Linked DNA regions of Homo sapiens. The protein of the gene in region 2 purifies or fractionates together with the protein of the main gene of each other region. This does not show direct contact. Each region holds a gene or a part of one and is shown on either strand. Other genes may lie near its edges.

What was found. The genes of interacting proteins can lie anywhere in the genome.
Region 1: the proteins of TMEM59 (region 2) and CEP131 purify together in Homo sapiens (co-immunoprecipitation; 2 studies listed by BioGRID and IntAct, with this or other methods). This does not show direct contact.
Region 3: the proteins of TMEM59 (region 2) and HS6ST1 purify together in Homo sapiens (affinity purification with mass spectrometry; one large-scale study listed by BioGRID and IntAct). This does not show direct contact.
Region 4: the proteins of TMEM59 (region 2) and MAN2A2 purify together in Homo sapiens (affinity purification with mass spectrometry; one large-scale study listed by BioGRID and IntAct). This does not show direct contact.

Annotation. Positions count from the first base shown.
Region 1 is NC_000017.11:81,189,096-81,192,733, forward strand, and holds the end of CEP131 (centrosomal protein of 131 kDa), read right to left. Parts: intron 3,499-3,638; coding exon 3,381-3,498; intron 3,298-3,380; coding exon 3,223-3,297; intron 2,256-3,222; coding exon of another isoform or gene 2,241-2,255; coding exon 2,098-2,240; intron 1,990-2,097; coding exon 1,812-1,989; intron 1,708-1,811; coding exon 1,544-1,707; intron 881-1,543; coding exon 820-880; coding exon of another isoform or gene 749-819; coding exon 674-748; 3' UTR 501-673; downstream 1-500. UniProt on the Homo sapiens protein: Component of centriolar satellites contributing to the building of a complex and dynamic network required to regulate cilia/flagellum formation.
Region 2 is NC_000001.11:54,032,705-54,036,204, forward strand, and holds part of TMEM59 (transmembrane protein 59 isoform 2 precursor), read right to left. Parts: intron 1-3,500.
Region 3 is NC_000002.12:128,270,369-128,274,636, reverse strand, and holds part of HS6ST1 (heparan-sulfate 6-O-sulfotransferase 1), read left to right. Parts: intron 1-4,268. UniProt on the Homo sapiens protein: 6-O-sulfation enzyme which catalyzes the transfer of sulfate from 3'-phosphoadenosine 5'-phosphosulfate (PAPS) to position 6 of the N-sulfoglucosamine residue (GlcNS) of heparan sulfate.
Region 4 is NC_000015.10:90,916,034-90,920,301, reverse strand, and holds part of MAN2A2 (alpha-mannosidase 2x), read right to left. Parts: intron 4,180-4,268; coding exon 4,046-4,179; intron 3,717-4,045; coding exon of another isoform or gene 3,642-3,716; intron 2,109-3,641; coding exon 1,914-2,108; intron 1,658-1,913; coding exon 1,547-1,657; intron 668-1,546; coding exon 515-667; 3' UTR 1-514.

The DNA.
Region 1 (3,638 bases), on a different chromosome or scaffold from region 2:
AGCTCCAGACTGTCACACCTTGACAGCGGGGAGGGTAGGGCTTCCTGTCCCTCTGGAGTCTCTCCAGCCATAGGAGCACGCTGGCAGCCATGGGCTTCCAGCACCTGCAGGGCCACGGCGGGGCCCTCGGAGCTCCTCCCAGGGGGTGAGTTCTGCTGAGTTCCTCCTGCGCCTGGCCAGGAACGGGGTAGGGAATTCCCTGTGCTTGGGACTTCCAGGGTCCAGGGCAAGGCAGGGAACAGGAACTTGGGGGTTGGGTTGAATGCTGGGGAGCTGAGGGCTGAGTGCAGGGGGGCTGCTGGCTGAGTGCTGGGGGCTGCTGGCTGAGTGTTGAGGGCTGCTAGCTGGGGGGCTGATGGCCAAGCTTCGTGATTTCCTGGTCAGCCTGCTCAGGCTGCGGAGGGGAGTGGGAGGAAGAGAGCCAAACCCACGCCTGGCTGCTCTGGGGGTCTTGGGCAGCCTCTAGCCCAGGAGAGAAGACAAGGCAGTCACTCAAGGCGCTGAAAACAACGGCCTCCTTTACTGTTAAAATGCAGCCACAGGTGCTTAGCCGTGGGCATCTCAACCACCAGCCTCTGTGGGGGGCAGGTGGGCGTCCCTGTGGGCCTCTGGGCCCACGTCCAGCCTCTGTCCTCTGCCTTCCGTTCTTCGACAGTGTTCCCGGCATCCCTGGTCACTTGGTACTTGGCGTGGGCCTCCTGTGCTGCTCCAGCAGCTCCTCCAGGTGGTCGGCCCGCTTCACCGCAGCCTGCAGCACACCCACAGGGTCAGGCCTGCTCCCAGCCCCGAGGTCCAGCAGGGCTGGCCACAGGGACTCACCTCATGTTGTGTCCGGAGGCTGCTCACGGCCTCCTCCTTCCTCGCGAGGGCTGTCTTCACCCTGTGGGTAGTACATGGTAGGCTTCAGTGTGGCCCCCGCCCCATGTCCCCAGAGTGGCCTGCAGTGCACAGGGTGCACGGGGCAGCCGCCTGGTCAGCCTGGTCCCAGCCCTGCTGACCACGACTCCTGTGGCTGGCCCAGACAGCTGTCCAGGCAACCCACCTGCTGTGAGTCAGGACCCAACACAGGCCACTGGAGTATGACCCTGGCCACACCTGGGGAGGCCTGGTACCCAGATGGGGTGGGACACCTCGCCCACACCCACCTCTCAGCCTGTGGCAGCAGATGGCACAGGAAGGATGCAGGACCCCCGTGGAGGGAGCTCGCTGGGAACCTTACAGTGCCCCAGCTCTTTCAGCGCCTGTCCACCCAGCCCAGGGCCCCGGGAGCTGACTCCCTGGAGAACTCGCCAGGCCCAGACCCGACCCACTCGGGTGCCCCAACAGGGATGGCCGACACCCTAGACTAAGCACCAGGGAGGAAAACAGATCTAGGTCTCCTGGGCCCCAAACATGGAACCCACACCAGCCTCTGTCTACAGGGCCCTGTCTCTGCATCTCCTGGCCTTCCTCAGCCACAGCCTCCTGGGGCTTGGAGCTGCAGAGGTCCTGCCCGCTCCCCTGCCCCGCCTCCGTCTCCAGCCCTGCAGCCCCCGCCGCCCACCTCCGGTGCACCTCCTCCAGCTCCAGCTGCTGGCGGGCCTGCAGCGTGGCCAGCTCGGCCTTGGCCTGCCGCGTCTCCTCCTCAGAGGCTGCCAGCCGGTCCTCGAACTCCTGGCGGATCACCTGGGCCAGGTTGCTGCGCTCGCTAGAAAGCTGCTCGTTCACCTGGGTGGGCACAGAAGGCAGTGAGCCGGCTGCCAGCGACTGGCTGCGTGCATGCAGGAGGGGCCTGTGGGTGCCCACTGCCCACCTGACACCCGCCCACTCACCGCCTGCGCATCCTCCAGCGCCCGCTCCTTCTGCCGCACAAGGCCCTGCAGACGCAGATTCTCGCCCTCGGCCTCCCCAAGCTGGCCCTTCAGCTCCGAGCACCGCTCCTGAAGCTTCCGCTCCGACTGCTCCAGCTCGGAGAGCTCGGCCTCGTACTTGTCCCGTAAGCGCTTGATGCTGGAGGTGGGGGGAGGGCAGGGTCACTCCAGCCCAGTCACACACGGGTCCTTGCGCCTCAGCTCGTGGGCCTCCCCAGCTGGTGACCCAGCCATGGCGGGTCCTTACCGGCTCTCGGCAGCCTTCTCACTCTCCTCCTTGGCCAGCGCCATGTCGGCCTCCAGCCGGTGAATGACCAGCTCAATCTCCTTGTCCCGGCCTTTCCGGATTTCTTCCCTCAGCTCCTGTTCCCGGTTCAGCAGCCACGCCTCCTGGGGGGACATGCGCTGCCTGGGGGTTGCCACCCGGAGCCGGCCCGCGGGGCCAGGGCCAGCCTCAGGGGGTCCTGGGGGGCTCCAGGCTCTGAGCCACAGGGGAGCAAGGGGCCTTCCCCCTCTCCAGACCCCTGTCCAGGGGTGCGCTACGTCCTGTTGTCAGGACCCAGTGTGGGCATAGGCGTACCAGAGATCGTCATGATGCACAGCCCACGGTCCCCTCCCTCAGAGACCCACAGCCCATGACAACCTGAGGCCACCTTCTGCTACCAGATGGGATGGGAAAGTTGGACTTGCGTGTTGCTGAGGGCGGGGCCTGGGCCCCCAAGCCCAGGCATTCAGAGCCTAAGCTGGCAGCCTCCTGGAAGCCTCTGAAAACTCCCAGAGTTTCATCTGTCCAGCCCTGGGCCCCACAGGGCTACGTCGGGAGCATGCTACTGGGCCCAGAGGCATCCACTGCCAAAGCCTGCCTGGCTGCTCGGTGACATCCCAGCCCACCAGGGTGTGAAACCAGGTGACGGGCACGGTCAGCCTGGACTGTAGCCTCGCGGCGGGCATGGGTGGTGAGAATGTGTGTGGGACTGTCACCGTGGCAGAGTCCACCCCCCACAGAAGGCCCCAGAGGCTAAGGGGGGAGCCCCTGTTGTGCGTGTCCCTCTCGGTACATCTGAGTGTCAGTGGGCTGGTCGTGGGGCGCAGGGGTGTAGCAGCCCCTAGCGAGAGGGGCAACGCCTGTTCTCGGACCACAGAGGATGCGCTCCAGGCACCCTTGATCCTTCCAGAGCCCACGCAAAAGATGGGCTGAAAGCAACACACTCAGCGTCAGTTCAGACAACAACCCCAAGCAGCCAGATGTGACTCCCAGAAACGAGCCCCCAGGATGCCACAGCAGCAGCAAAACCCACCTGGGGCAGCCCCCAACTCCTGCCCACGCAGGGCAGCCCCCAACCCCTGCCCACCTGGGTGCCCAGGCCCCCACCTCCTTCCTGGTGCGGCCGGCCTCCCACGCCTGCCTCTCCAGCTCCAGCTGCTGCTTCAGGGTATTCAGCTCCATCTGGGGGGCGGACATAAGAGGCCAGTCAGTCCCACCCCGTGCAGCCCCCTGGCCAGGCCCAGCACAGCCCTCCGGTGGTAGACCTGGTGCCGGCGCTCCTGCTCCTCCCTGCCCTTCTCAAACTCAGCCCTCAGGGCTCGGGTCAGTGCAGAGCTGCTCTCCTCCAGCTGCTGCCTCAGCTCTTCCAGCTCCGCCCGCTGCCTGCGGCCAGGGAGGAGTCAGCAGGTGAGGGGTCATCGAGTAAGGAGTCAGGGATGGGAGAGGTCAGCGGGTGAGGGGGCGGGGGGGAGGGGTCAGCCAGCGAGGGGTCCCTGGGAGAGGGCGTGGTGCCCCCGGGCGGC
Region 2 (3,500 bases):
ACAAAGAATATGCATGAAATGCTCTCACACTGATAGAAGGGTCTTCATAAATATATAAAGTTCCTTAATTGTTAATACCATATACAAGAAGACACTAAAAGAATGAAAGCATAAAACAGAATCACTGCAAATGTCATAAAACTCATTGGAGAATAATAGTAATATCTAGCATCTTTTGAGAGTAGGTAGACTTAGATATATGTATGAATGTCTCTGTCTCTTTTTTTTTTTTTTTTAAAGAGACGGGGTCTTGTTCTGTTACCCAGGCTGGAGTGCAGTGGTGTGATCATAGCTCACTACTAGGCCTTGAACTCCTGGGCTCAAGTGATTCTCCTGCCTCAGCCTCCTGAGTAGCTAGGACTATAGGCATGCACCACCATGCCCAGCTAATTTTTCTTTTTTCTTTCTTTCTTTTTTTTTTCTTTCTTTTTTTTTTTTAAATGATGGGGTCTTGCTATGTTGCCTAGGCTGGTCTCAGACTCCTGGCCTCAAGTGATCCTCCTACCTTGGCCTCCCAAAGTGTTGGGATACATGTGTGAGCCACTAGGCCTGTCCGTATGTATCTCTTAAAGGCAGAAAAGCAAAGTGAAAAGTCTCCACTAAGAAACGGCATAGGCTGGGTGCGGTGGCTCATGCCTGTAATCCCAGCATTTTGGGAGGCTGAGGCGGGCGGATCACTTCAGGTCAGGAGCTCGAGACCAGCCTGGCTAACATGGTGAAACCCGGTCTCCACTAAAAATACAAAAAATTAGCCAGGCATGGTGGTACATGCCTGTAATTCCAGCTACTCAGGAGGTTGAGGCACAAGAATCACTTGAGCCCGGGAGGCAGAGATTGCAGTGGGGTGAGATCGCGACACTGCCCTCCAGCCTGGGGGACAGAGTGAGACTCTGTCTCACAAAAAAAAAAAAAAAAAAAAATGGTATAGATTCTGTTGTTAATCTACTCATACGGCAACAAATCCCTGTATCCAAAAGTTAGAAACTGAAGTGCTGATATCACTGGCAGGACAACTGACTAGATTATAAAGCAAGAACTCCACAGAAGTACCCGATACTGGAAAGGTGTTTTTAAAAGATGCTGAATAAAGAGCACCTTCAAGAGTTTATCAAAAGTGATACATGCTATCCTGGCTGGGCGTGGTGGCTCAAGCCTGTAATCCCAGCACTTTGGGAGGCTGAGGAAGGTGGATCACCTGAGGTCAGGCGTTCCAGACCAGTCTGGCCAACATGGTGAAACCCCATCTCTACTAAAAATACAAAAATTAGCTGGGTGTGGTGGTGCATGCCTGTAGTCCCAGCTACTAGGGAGGCCGAGGTAGGAGAATCGCTTGAACCCGAGAGGCAGAGGTTTGCAGTGAGCCGAGATCGCACCACTGCACTCTAGCCTGGGCGATAGAGCAAGACTCCATCTCAAAAAAAAAAAAAAAAAAAAAAGTGATAAAGTGATACATGCTATAACATGATGAACCTTGAAAATATGCTTAGTCAAAGAGGCCAGTCACAAGAGACTACATATTGGCTATCTAGGGCTGGAGGGTGAGATGGGGGTAGGGGTGGTGCAGCTGCTGCTGCTTGGGAGAAAATGGGGAGCAATTACTAAGAGTATAGATTTTCTTTCTGGGCTGATGAAAATGTTCTAAAAGTGATTGTCACGATAGTTGCTTACTCACACATGTTTCAGATGTGTTCTACTGGACGGTTGCCTCAGGGGAACAACTATCCTGCAAGGAGGTGCCCCAGTACCTTAAGCTTTTCCAGTATGAGAGTAGCTTTAAGACAAGTTCAGGCCAGGCGCAGTGGCTCACACCTGTAATCCCAGCACTTTGGGAGGCTAAGGCAGGCGAATCACTTGAGGTCAGGAGTTCGAGACCAACCTGGCCAACATGGTGAAACCCCATCTCTACTAAAAATACAAAAATAAGCTGGGTGTGGTGGTGTGCGCTTGTAGTCCCAGCCACTCGGCAGGCTGAGACACAAGAATCGCTTGAACCCGGGAGGTGGAGATTGCAGTGAGCTGAGATCGTGCCATTGCACTCCAGCCTCAGCGACAGTGCGAGACCCTGTCTAAAAAAAGAAAAAAGAAAGTTCAGTGGTTGATGGGTTGGACGTGGATCTGATGGATCTGATATAGCAGGCCTCCATAAAACTCAGAATTCACATGTGACCGTTGGCTCTGGGGCACTGTGAAAGAAAAATGTTCACAACTCTACCTAACAATATTTAAAGATCTTGAAGCAGCAACCAGGAACTGTTTGATTTTATACATCAACATGAAAGAAGCCACTGAAGGGAGGTAGGAGACTGAGGAGATGTTGGTTAAAGGACACAACATTTCAGTTAGATGGGAAGAATATGAAGATACATGAAAATACTTTGTAAATTTTAACGACTATATAAATGTTAGTTATCAACATTATCCTGTCCCAGTTTCCAGGTACCTACATCAATTATATCACCTTAATAAAAATATTAAGTGTAATATTATCTTAATCATTTTTCATGTGCAAATCATATATTTAAACATCTTTATAGTCTATTAGGATAAGACAGTTGTTCAGGCACCATGTTAGGCACATGCCAATGGCTTATTATTAGATTCTAATTTCTGTCTTTTCTCTTTTTCTATGGTACTTTGGAGGCATAAGAAAACTAAAGTTTATTTCAGTTGGATTAGATGTTGACAGCCATTATTATTCTATATTTAGTTATATAAATACTTTTCTGTTCTTGAAAGCTAAGTTGAATAATTAAATTATAGCCTTTCCCCCAAACAAAAATCCTTTACCTTAACAGTTATATTTTTTGGGCCAGTTAAATTTTAATTACCAAGGAAGTCACAATGTCTCCCATCTCTTTTGGGGTTAGATACCAGAATATAACAACTCAAAATCAAACACTCCAGCATTTTTTTTTCTTTTCTTTTGAGACTCAGGGTCTTGTTCTGTCACCAGGCTGGAGTACAGTGGCACAATCCTGGCTCACTGCAGCCTCAACCTCCTGGGCTCAAGTGATCCTCCCACCTCAGCCTCCTAAGTAGCTGGGATCACGGGCACGCACCACCATACCCAGATAATTTTTATAATTTTTCATAGAGACAGGATCTCATCATGTTGCCCAGGCTGGTCTCAAATTCTTGAGCTCAAGTGATCCTCCTGCCTAGGCTTCCCAAAGTGCTGGGATTAGAGAGGCATGAGCACCACACCTGGCCCAGCCTTGCTGCTTCTAAAGCAGCACTGATCCTTAATATTGTGGTAATTAATTTAAACTATTAAGTGGTTCTACAAGTCTTCTCTCTGGCTGGGTATGGTGGCTCACGCCTGTAATCCCAACACTTTGGGAGGCAGAGGTGGGCAGGTCACTTGAGATCAGGAGTTCAGGACCAGACTGGTCAATATGGTGAAACTCCATTTCTACTGAATATACAAAAATTAGCTGGACATGGTGGCGCATGCTTGTAGTCCCAGCTACTCGGGAGGCTGAGGAAGAATCACTTGAACC
Region 3 (4,268 bases), on a different chromosome or scaffold from region 2:
TTTTGCTGACATCCTGGAACCGTCCCCTGGGTTGGAGCTCCTGGCTTCCAAGTTTGTTTGTTTGTTTGTTTGTTCTGTTTTTTCTTTTCCTTTTTTGCTAAATGAGATGCCTACTCCAGGATCTTCCTAAAATAAGATTCACAGAAGGTAAATTTCCTAAGTCTTTGTATGTCTGAACACATCTCTACTGTCCATACTTGATTGATAGTTTGGCTGGGTATGAGATTGGTCATTTTCCTTCTGCCTTTTGAAGACCGTGCTCCAATGGTTTCTAACATACGGCGTTGCAATGGAGAAGCATGCCATTTATGTATTGTTTTTTTTGTCCAGATGCTTCAAGGGTCAACTTTTTAGTCCTCTGTTCATTCCCCACATTCATTTGCTCGGCACTTGGTCAGCCATTTCAGTCTCCGTGAATGATGTACTCCAATTCTGGTTATTTCTGTCATCATCTCCTCTATTTTCTCTCTCCCCTCTTTCTGGAAGCCTTGCTGGCAGGCACTTGGAGCACCTGAATGGATAGACCCTGCTGGATAGTGATAGGCACAAAGCCCCTGCTTTGTGGGGTCCCAGGTGTCAGTGCAGGGAAGACTGCTCTGGGGCACAGACCCTTCAGCAGGGGGTGCGAGGCAGGGATTAGATGAGCCTGGGCTCCTGAGGGCAGGGGCTGGGGACCACCGTGAGTGTGCAGACCATTCCTCAAACCTCTGAGCCATGAGCCGCCCCCTTGGCACCTCCAGAGAGCACATGTCAGAGAGCTGCCTAGATCTGGGGTGGGCCATTTGGGGAGTCCTCTGCACCTCGCCACACCCCGCCCTCTTCCTGCTTCTGTTTGACACCTCCACCCCGCCTTTTGGCAGATGACAGACTGGAGAGTAAACAGCAGATGCGTCTGGCAACGCATGCAATGGAGGAAAGAGGACGGAGCACAGGAGGTGGGACAGGGCAAGGCGCAGCTGGGGCACCAGACCAGAGGATGGCCAGGACGTGCCTGTGGCCAGCAGTGCCTGCAGTGTTTGGCAGAGGGAAGGGGACAAGGCAGAGGGGAGGGGAGGGCTCTGCGTGTTGGGCATGGGACTGGACGCCTCTGGCTCCTAAAGAGTCCCACCGGCTATGGAGGGGCGTGCCAGGTAGTGGCTTCCATACCGTTCAGGCAGGTGTAGGTAGGAACTGGACGGTGGCCAAGGGCAGGTCACCCTGCCTGGATCAGCTGTCACATCTGCAGAAAGGGGCAGGAACACCCACATTTGGCTGCTGGCCTCACAGGCAGCTTCTAGAGTCTGGCTGGCCCTTTGTCTATACCACAGGCCGTGTCTAGGGGACAGAACAAGGGGACCCAGGGCATGGCAATGTTCTGAGCAGAGAAGGTGCACAGGGAGCCGTGGGGACAGCGTAAGCCATTGGGCCTTAGGGCAGGGGCCTCGGTCAGCTCCTAAGGCTCCCCCAGGTGCAGTGTCCGTTGCGCCATTTTATTACAAGACGCAGAGCCGCTGGGCCAGCACTGCTAATATCTTTGAACACACCCGCCTCCCTGGTGTGGTTCCCCAGCAGCTGTCCCTGCAGCGGGAGGCCTTGGTCCAGAAGGGTTATGTGGGACATGGGCGCAGGAAGGACAGGTGAGGCTGACAGGCTTGGTCATTCCAGGGACCATGAGGGCTTTCGCTGGCTCAGGTGCCCCTTTCCCCTGCCGTTGCCCCTGTTGGTGCCTGCTAGACCTCCTGTGCACAGAAGGCCTTGGCAGAGGAGAGAGCCAGGCCTGGGGCAGTAAAGGAGAAAGCTTCCCCTCCAGTCCTCTGAGGGCCCCGGACTTAGATGGCTTTCAAATGAGTGTCTGTCTTCAGCAGCTCACCCTCCCAGCTTTTTCAGAAACCAAAGAGTAAATTGCTCACGGCTTCTCTAAGTGGCTCACACACAAAAAACCCGAGTCATTTCAATGGCTGGACCCAGAAAATCGAGCCCTCTTCTCTCCTCCCTGTCTCTGGCCCCCAACTCTGCCTCAGTTGCCCTGGGGTCTCACTGTCCCCTCAAGACACTGCCCCTGCAGGCGCAGGCAGAGAGGCCTTTGTTCCCCTCAGCTGTGTCCCCTCAGCTGTGTAGAGAGGATGCTGCCGTCGGACACGTGGTAACTGAGCCTGCTGCCACCCCCACCCGTGATGGTCAGTAGGTCGCGTGCCATCTGGGGCTACTAGAGCCGGCCCACTGTGCATACTACATGTGCCTGCTGGGTGCTCTGGGCTCTTCTCGCACTCCTGCACTGGCAACCGCTTATCTTTTTGAGCTGGGTCTTAAAGGTGGAGAGGTCTGACCAAGGGGCGGTCACTCACACTGGCATTCCAGTGAAGGGCATGGCCCATGCAGAGACCAGGGGTGATATACCCGTGTCCTCCTACCTGCAGACCGTGACGGTGCTGGGGAGGGGAGGGGGCACCAGGCCACATCGGGAGGGCAGCAGGTAGACGCTCCAGCCCCTCCACGGCAGAGGCCCTGAGCTTTGCAGGGGTGAGGAGGCTGTCATTCAGAAACGTCGCTGCCAGGGAGAAGGGACTTAGAGAAGGGAGCCTTGTGGCTGTGGCCCATGGCTGCCCTCACCACCAGGCTCCTGCCTTCAGGTGGCCAGGGGCCATCTGAACGCCCAGGGGACCTGGGTATGGGGTTGGTGTAGACCATGTCTTGGCCCTTCCCAAGGTGCCGGCTTCACCTCCATCCCTCTGTGCTCTGGTGCTGACCTGGCATTTGCAGTTATGTGCCCTAGTGGCAGCCGCTCGAGCTTGGCTGCCAAGACCCACGGTGTGGTCAGACCACTGTGTGCGGCTGAGGAATGAGTTCCTCCCAGGAGGGGAAAGCCCTCGGGTCAATCGGGGCCCTCGTGCCCACCCGTCACTGCAGGCCAGGATCGTGGCAGGTGGCAACCCCAGCTTTGAGTGCTGCGTCTTCTGGGGCTGCAGCCGCCCACTGTGAGCAGGAGGGTGAGGGCAGGTAGAGTCTGTCCTGCCATGAAGCTGGAGGCTTTGACAGCAGGGGCGGACAGAACTGAGCAGAAACACTTCACAGCCTGGCCACGAGCTCCCCGCTTTGTGCTCCCTCCCTCGCATTTCCCCGTGTTCTGCACCCCCAGAGCTGAGGAGCCAGGGCCCTTGTCCAGGAACAGGCTGGATCGAGGCCTGGTGCCTGCATGCATTCCCAGGTGGGAGCCAGGCAGGTGACCCGGACCCTCCACCAGCCCAGAAGCAGCCCTTCCACCGAGGGGCCTCACACCACTTCTGCCTGCTCCCTCAGTCATTAGGCCCAGCGCTGGCTAGGTGGCTCCAGACATGACCAGCAGGCTCTAAGGCTCATCAGCGTCTTCTGGAGCCTGCACGATACACACACAGGCACAGGCTACACCATGGGAGACCCCATCTGCAGGGTGCCAAGCCCTTGCATGCTTGGGCCTCTGACGGGATCTGTCCCCGCTGCTAACCAGGCACAGGGCAGCTTGCTCTGCAGGTCTTCCAGTCAGCTAGCACAGACCCTGGCCAGTGTCATGACTCTGTGGCCCTGGGCAAGTCACACACCCTCTCTGGGCCATGGGCAGAGGAGCTCATGATGGAGGCATGCCTTGGGCTTCAGGGGATGGTCCCTGAATGGGTGTGGGGCTGGGGCTGAAGGACCCGCCTGTGGGCTGGGGCGCTGAAAATGGGAGAGGAACTGAGCCATTTGTGTTTCCCAGATGGGGCCTGCTGCACTGTGCACAGCGTGTCCTTGCCCTCAGAGTCACCCTTGGGGCCAGAGTCCTTGTGGCTGTAACTCACAGGGTCATTGGCTGGGGCTAGGAGGGCAAGCTTCTCTGTTGGTGGACACATCACACTGTGGTTTTTTGTGTTCAGAAGAAACCTGCCACACTGGCCTGTCTCCATCCATTTGGTCACGGCCCCACAGGAGTGGGGAGCGGAGGTCCATGCGGCCCTATGCCTCCCCTGGACACAGGGTCAGCTAGGAAGGATATGGATAGCCTCTTCTGAGCAGTCAGGGCCTCGTGAGCCTGAGGCAGGAGACAGAAGCCTGCCCCGGCCGCCTCGGGCCCTTACTCCCTGGCCCTTGGTCATTATTGTTTCTAAAACGTTTGTCTCACCTGCTACCTGAAGAAGGTCCCGCCCTCTGGCCCTTGAGGCCCCGAGTGCCCAGGAGCTGCTGCCATCAGCATGGATGGGTGGTACCAGGCAGGCTGTGGGTGCAGGGTGCTTGGGGAGGGCCAGGTGTGCCTTGGGACGTGTGAAGTGGGAGCCTGG
Region 4 (4,268 bases), on a different chromosome or scaffold from region 2:
TGCTAACTCTGGGTCCCCACCCCTGTCCTCCCAGAGTCACTCTGATCCTGCTCATCACACCAGGACATGGAGTCTCTACATAACCACAGGATTCCCCTAGAGCCTGCTGTTGCCACAGTGACCCTGATGCTGGGCTGTTACCCACTTAGCCTCCCTTACCTCTTCTGTCTGCTTCCACCACTTCTATATCCCTGTTTGGAAAAAGGATGGGTGCCTGAGCCTGTGCCCAGTTGGGTGTCCACTCACAACCCAAAGCAGAGCCTGGCACTGCCCACTCTGACCAAGGGCCTTCTCTCCCTGATCTCACTGGCGTCTGCCCTATTTACCCATCACTGGGTTTGTGGGTTGCGCCGAAAACACAGCAGCAGCAATAAACAGAAAATGAGGGCAGAGCCCAGTGTGTCACAGTTCTGGGAGGCAGATCGGGATGGGATACCCGTGTGGCTTGTCCAATGATCTTCATGTTAAGAGGCAGTCTCTGTGAATGAACTTTCTCTTCAGGCCACAAGAAGCCCTAACCCAAGCGGAGGCGAAAGGTAGCAATCTCCATGGGCTCCAAATAGACGTCAGTGCTGTTGGACGGGGAGGCCAGAGGGTACAGTAACGTCAAGGAGGTTGGCTGAAGGAATACCACATCCAGGCCATGGAAAAGGCTGCCCAGGGCTACCTGTGGAGAGCAGAGAAGGGGCAGGGTTGTGCTAGGTGCCGAGACACTAAAGAATGTGGCTGTTCATCTACAATTTGGTACCTCTTTAAGAATCTCAGCCAGGGGCAGTGGCTCACACCTGTAATCCCAGCACTTTGGGAGGCCAAGGCGGGTGGATCACCTGAGGTCAGGAGTTCGAGACCAGCCTGGCCAACATGGCGAAACCCCGTCTCTACTAACAATATAAAAATTAGCTGGGCGTGGGGGCAGGCGCCTGTAATCCCAGCTACTCGGGAGGCTGAGGCAGGAGGATCACTTGAACCAGGAGGCGGGGGTTGCAGTGAGCTGCGATCACGCCACTGCACTCCAGTTCCGGCTGGCCCCTCTCAGCAACACCATGCCTTCTTACACATGAGTGTGCATCCAGTCTCACGGGCTTGCTGAGATTTGCTCAACCCTAAAGCCTGCCTACAGATCTCTGGGTAAGAACCGTTCCACTGAGCTGTGAGCTCTGTGAAAACAGTGACCATGTCTTGGTTCACTTCTGAAACACTGGAGCCCAGCAGAGGACCTGGCACCCGGGGACATTTATCAGTGCCGGCTGATATGAGCTTACAAAGTAACAACAGGATGGGTTCTGGTTTTCTATTTCTGGTGTTTTCCACTTTGCTTGATAGAGGTCCCTGCTCAGGGAACAAAAGTTCTCAAGCGATCTACCTTGTCTGGAACTCCCCCTGCCAGGCCTCCGGAGCTCTGAAAACATGTCTACAGCTTCCCCCCTTCTCTCCAGAAAGCCCTGGAGTGACACTTTCTTCTCCCAGCCTGTCACCGAATCTCAGCCCAGTCTTACCAAGCTCATGCCTGCCATTCCTAGGTGCTCTGTTTCCCCACCCTACTCACCTTGCCTTGGCTTGTGGTGCAGTTGAAGCCCAAGTTCTTGGCCTCCAGGCCGCAGTCAAAACCCTTGCGGTGTAAGATGAGTGCGGTCTCCGCCGAGGGTAGGGTGTCCTCCTGGATGACAGACAGTGCCCAGGGAAGTGGGCGCAGGGCTTTCAGAGATCGGAGATGCAGCAGCGCCTCTGCCCAGAGGCAGTGCTGGCACAGGGAGGCGTGTGGGTAAGGAAAGGCCAAAACCTGGTCCTGGAGGTTTGGAGCCGAATACCTGCTAAGGGGTCTGGACCTCATCCTGGAGGCTAAGGAAGGAGCTGAGCAGGGAGGGACACCATCAGAACTCTGCTCTCAGCATGTCACGCTGAGGGACACTCACCTCAGCCTGGAGCGTACGTAGGTTGAGCAGGTGGAAGTCACAGGGCAGTGAGGAAGCCAGAGGATGAAATGAGCGCAGACCAGGGCCTGGGAGCTGCATCCTGGCTACAGGCAGAGCGAGCGCCGGGGCGTTCAGGTACATGGAGGTCAGGTGGCTGAGGAGGGATGGGTAGCTGGTAGAGTGGCTATCTTGGACCTGCAAAATTGACCCGAGATATTGGTGAGGGACCAAAGCCAGGCTGAGGGGAGAGGACGAGGCAGGATAAAAGCACACCCAGGTCAGTTGTTTTGGAAAGACCTTTCCTGGTGTGCCTGGACTCAAGGGCACGCCTGGCTCCAGGCGAGGTTCCGCTAACCCTTCAAGTGTGGACATTTGCCGTCTCCCCTAACGCAGAGGGCTACTTCACTAAGCTGTTTCTTCTCTACTTTTTAGTTCCTTGCTCACATAACACTATCATGAGCAACCCACTCCCATCAGCCATGTCTCCCCTCACACATGGATCCACAGTGCAGGGAGGATGGCAGCCAGGCAGACGCAGGCCTCACCATGGAGCACGGACCTCCAATCCAGAGTGCTCTGGGTAATCTGCGGCTTCACGAGCGATGCCACATCCACAGTGCCAGCCTGGCTCTCAGGCCCAGCGCGGCCGGGGCTCTGCCAGCAGGGCTACTCCTTAGCAGCTCACCTGGACGTCAGACTCACAGGCCTGGGCTGAATATTCTGGACTTCTGTCCCTGGCATCCCCCTTCTTCCAAGCGCCCAGCATCTCTCACTTCCCTCTGCATTCCCAGGTAATGCTAAACCCTCTTCCGTCGCACCTGGGCAGTGTCCTCATAGCCACCGGCAACTTCTCCAGCCTCTGGCCTAGTTCAAGCAGCCAGCATGTCCTGCCTGAACAGCCTCCCGCTGTCACCCTCCTCCAGTCTCCCTTCCCACAGATCCAACCTGCTCCGTACTGTCAGCGTGACATGCTGAGACCAGAGTTCTGACGGTGTCCCTCCTTGCTCAGCTCTTTCCTTAGCCTGGACCTTTCCTAGCCAGGATAAAGTCCAGATCCCTTAGCAGGCACTCAAGGTGCTCTGCCGTCTGCCCTGATCTCCCCCTAGCACTCTAGCCCAGCACCAGCCAAGAGGGCATTCTGCAAGGATGGAAATATCCGACACCACATGGTCTAATACGGCAGCCACTTAGCCACTTGAGTACTTGAAGTGTGGTCAGTAGGAATAAGAAAGCAAATTTTTTACTTGATTTAGTTGTAATTTAAATAGCCATATAGGGCTACTGGCCACCGTACTGGATAGCATAGCTCCAGCATAACTAAGGAACTCACTGCTATTCCCCAGCCTGTTGTCTTTCCTGCCTCCTATCCTGTGCCCTGGTTCATATCTTCAAATCACACCCCATTCATCAAAGCCACACCTGGGTGACACCTCCTTGACCTCGATCTCCTTAGCCCACATTATTACCTTGCTCCTCAGGATCAGTGAGACAAAGCCCTTTCTACCTTGCATTTTTACACACATGGCTTCTCTGCCACCCCTACTCACGAGTAAACTCCTGGGAGAGTCAGCACTGTCTGCACTTATGTCCCTCTGGGTCCTCACAGTAAAGCAGGTGCTCAATATCTATCTGATGCACGAGTGACTGAGTGGCGGGCTCTGTCACCTGGGCTCTGGCGCAGCTACACCTTGCTCGTACTAGTTCCCCGCTCCCAGAGCCGACCCTTACCTCTCGGTTACCGCTCCTGCTGCTGTGAAAGATCAAGCCCCTAAACATGGCTGCCAGTTTGGAGAAAAAGTCAGGCTGGTGGGGCAAAGAAAGCCATGAGATGAGCGGGGTTGGAGCACAGGCTTAGAGAATGCTGGGACAGGGCAGAGGAGGGCAGCACAGAGGAAAGTGGGAGACGAACATGAGGGGCACAGGTGACAGAGCGCTGCTGGGAGAGGAAGGTGCCAGGCTGCGTGAGATGGGACACAAAACGCCAGACTGCCTCCCCCCACCCCAGGAATTCAGCCCTACTCTCTCTCTCTTGCCCACCTCCAACTACGCTCCTCGAGCCCTAGGCTGGACCCCCCGGCCACCCCCAGGGACTAGCCAGACCTGGCTCCCTGGGCGTCAGCCCCAGATGTTACCTCACTGCCCACGGTTCGCCGCTCTAGCAGGAGGCGGAAACGGTTGCAGGTTCTCTTGTTGTCCTTGAGCCCTTGGCCTAGGCCCCGGTTGTCATCCTGCATCAGCCGCCGGTCCAAGATCACCTCCAGCTGGCCTGGGGAAGCAAACAGTGAGTGCTGGCCCGCCCCCACCCCCAAGCAGGCACTGACCTTTCAAAGGAGAATCCCAAGCCACAGGCCCTGA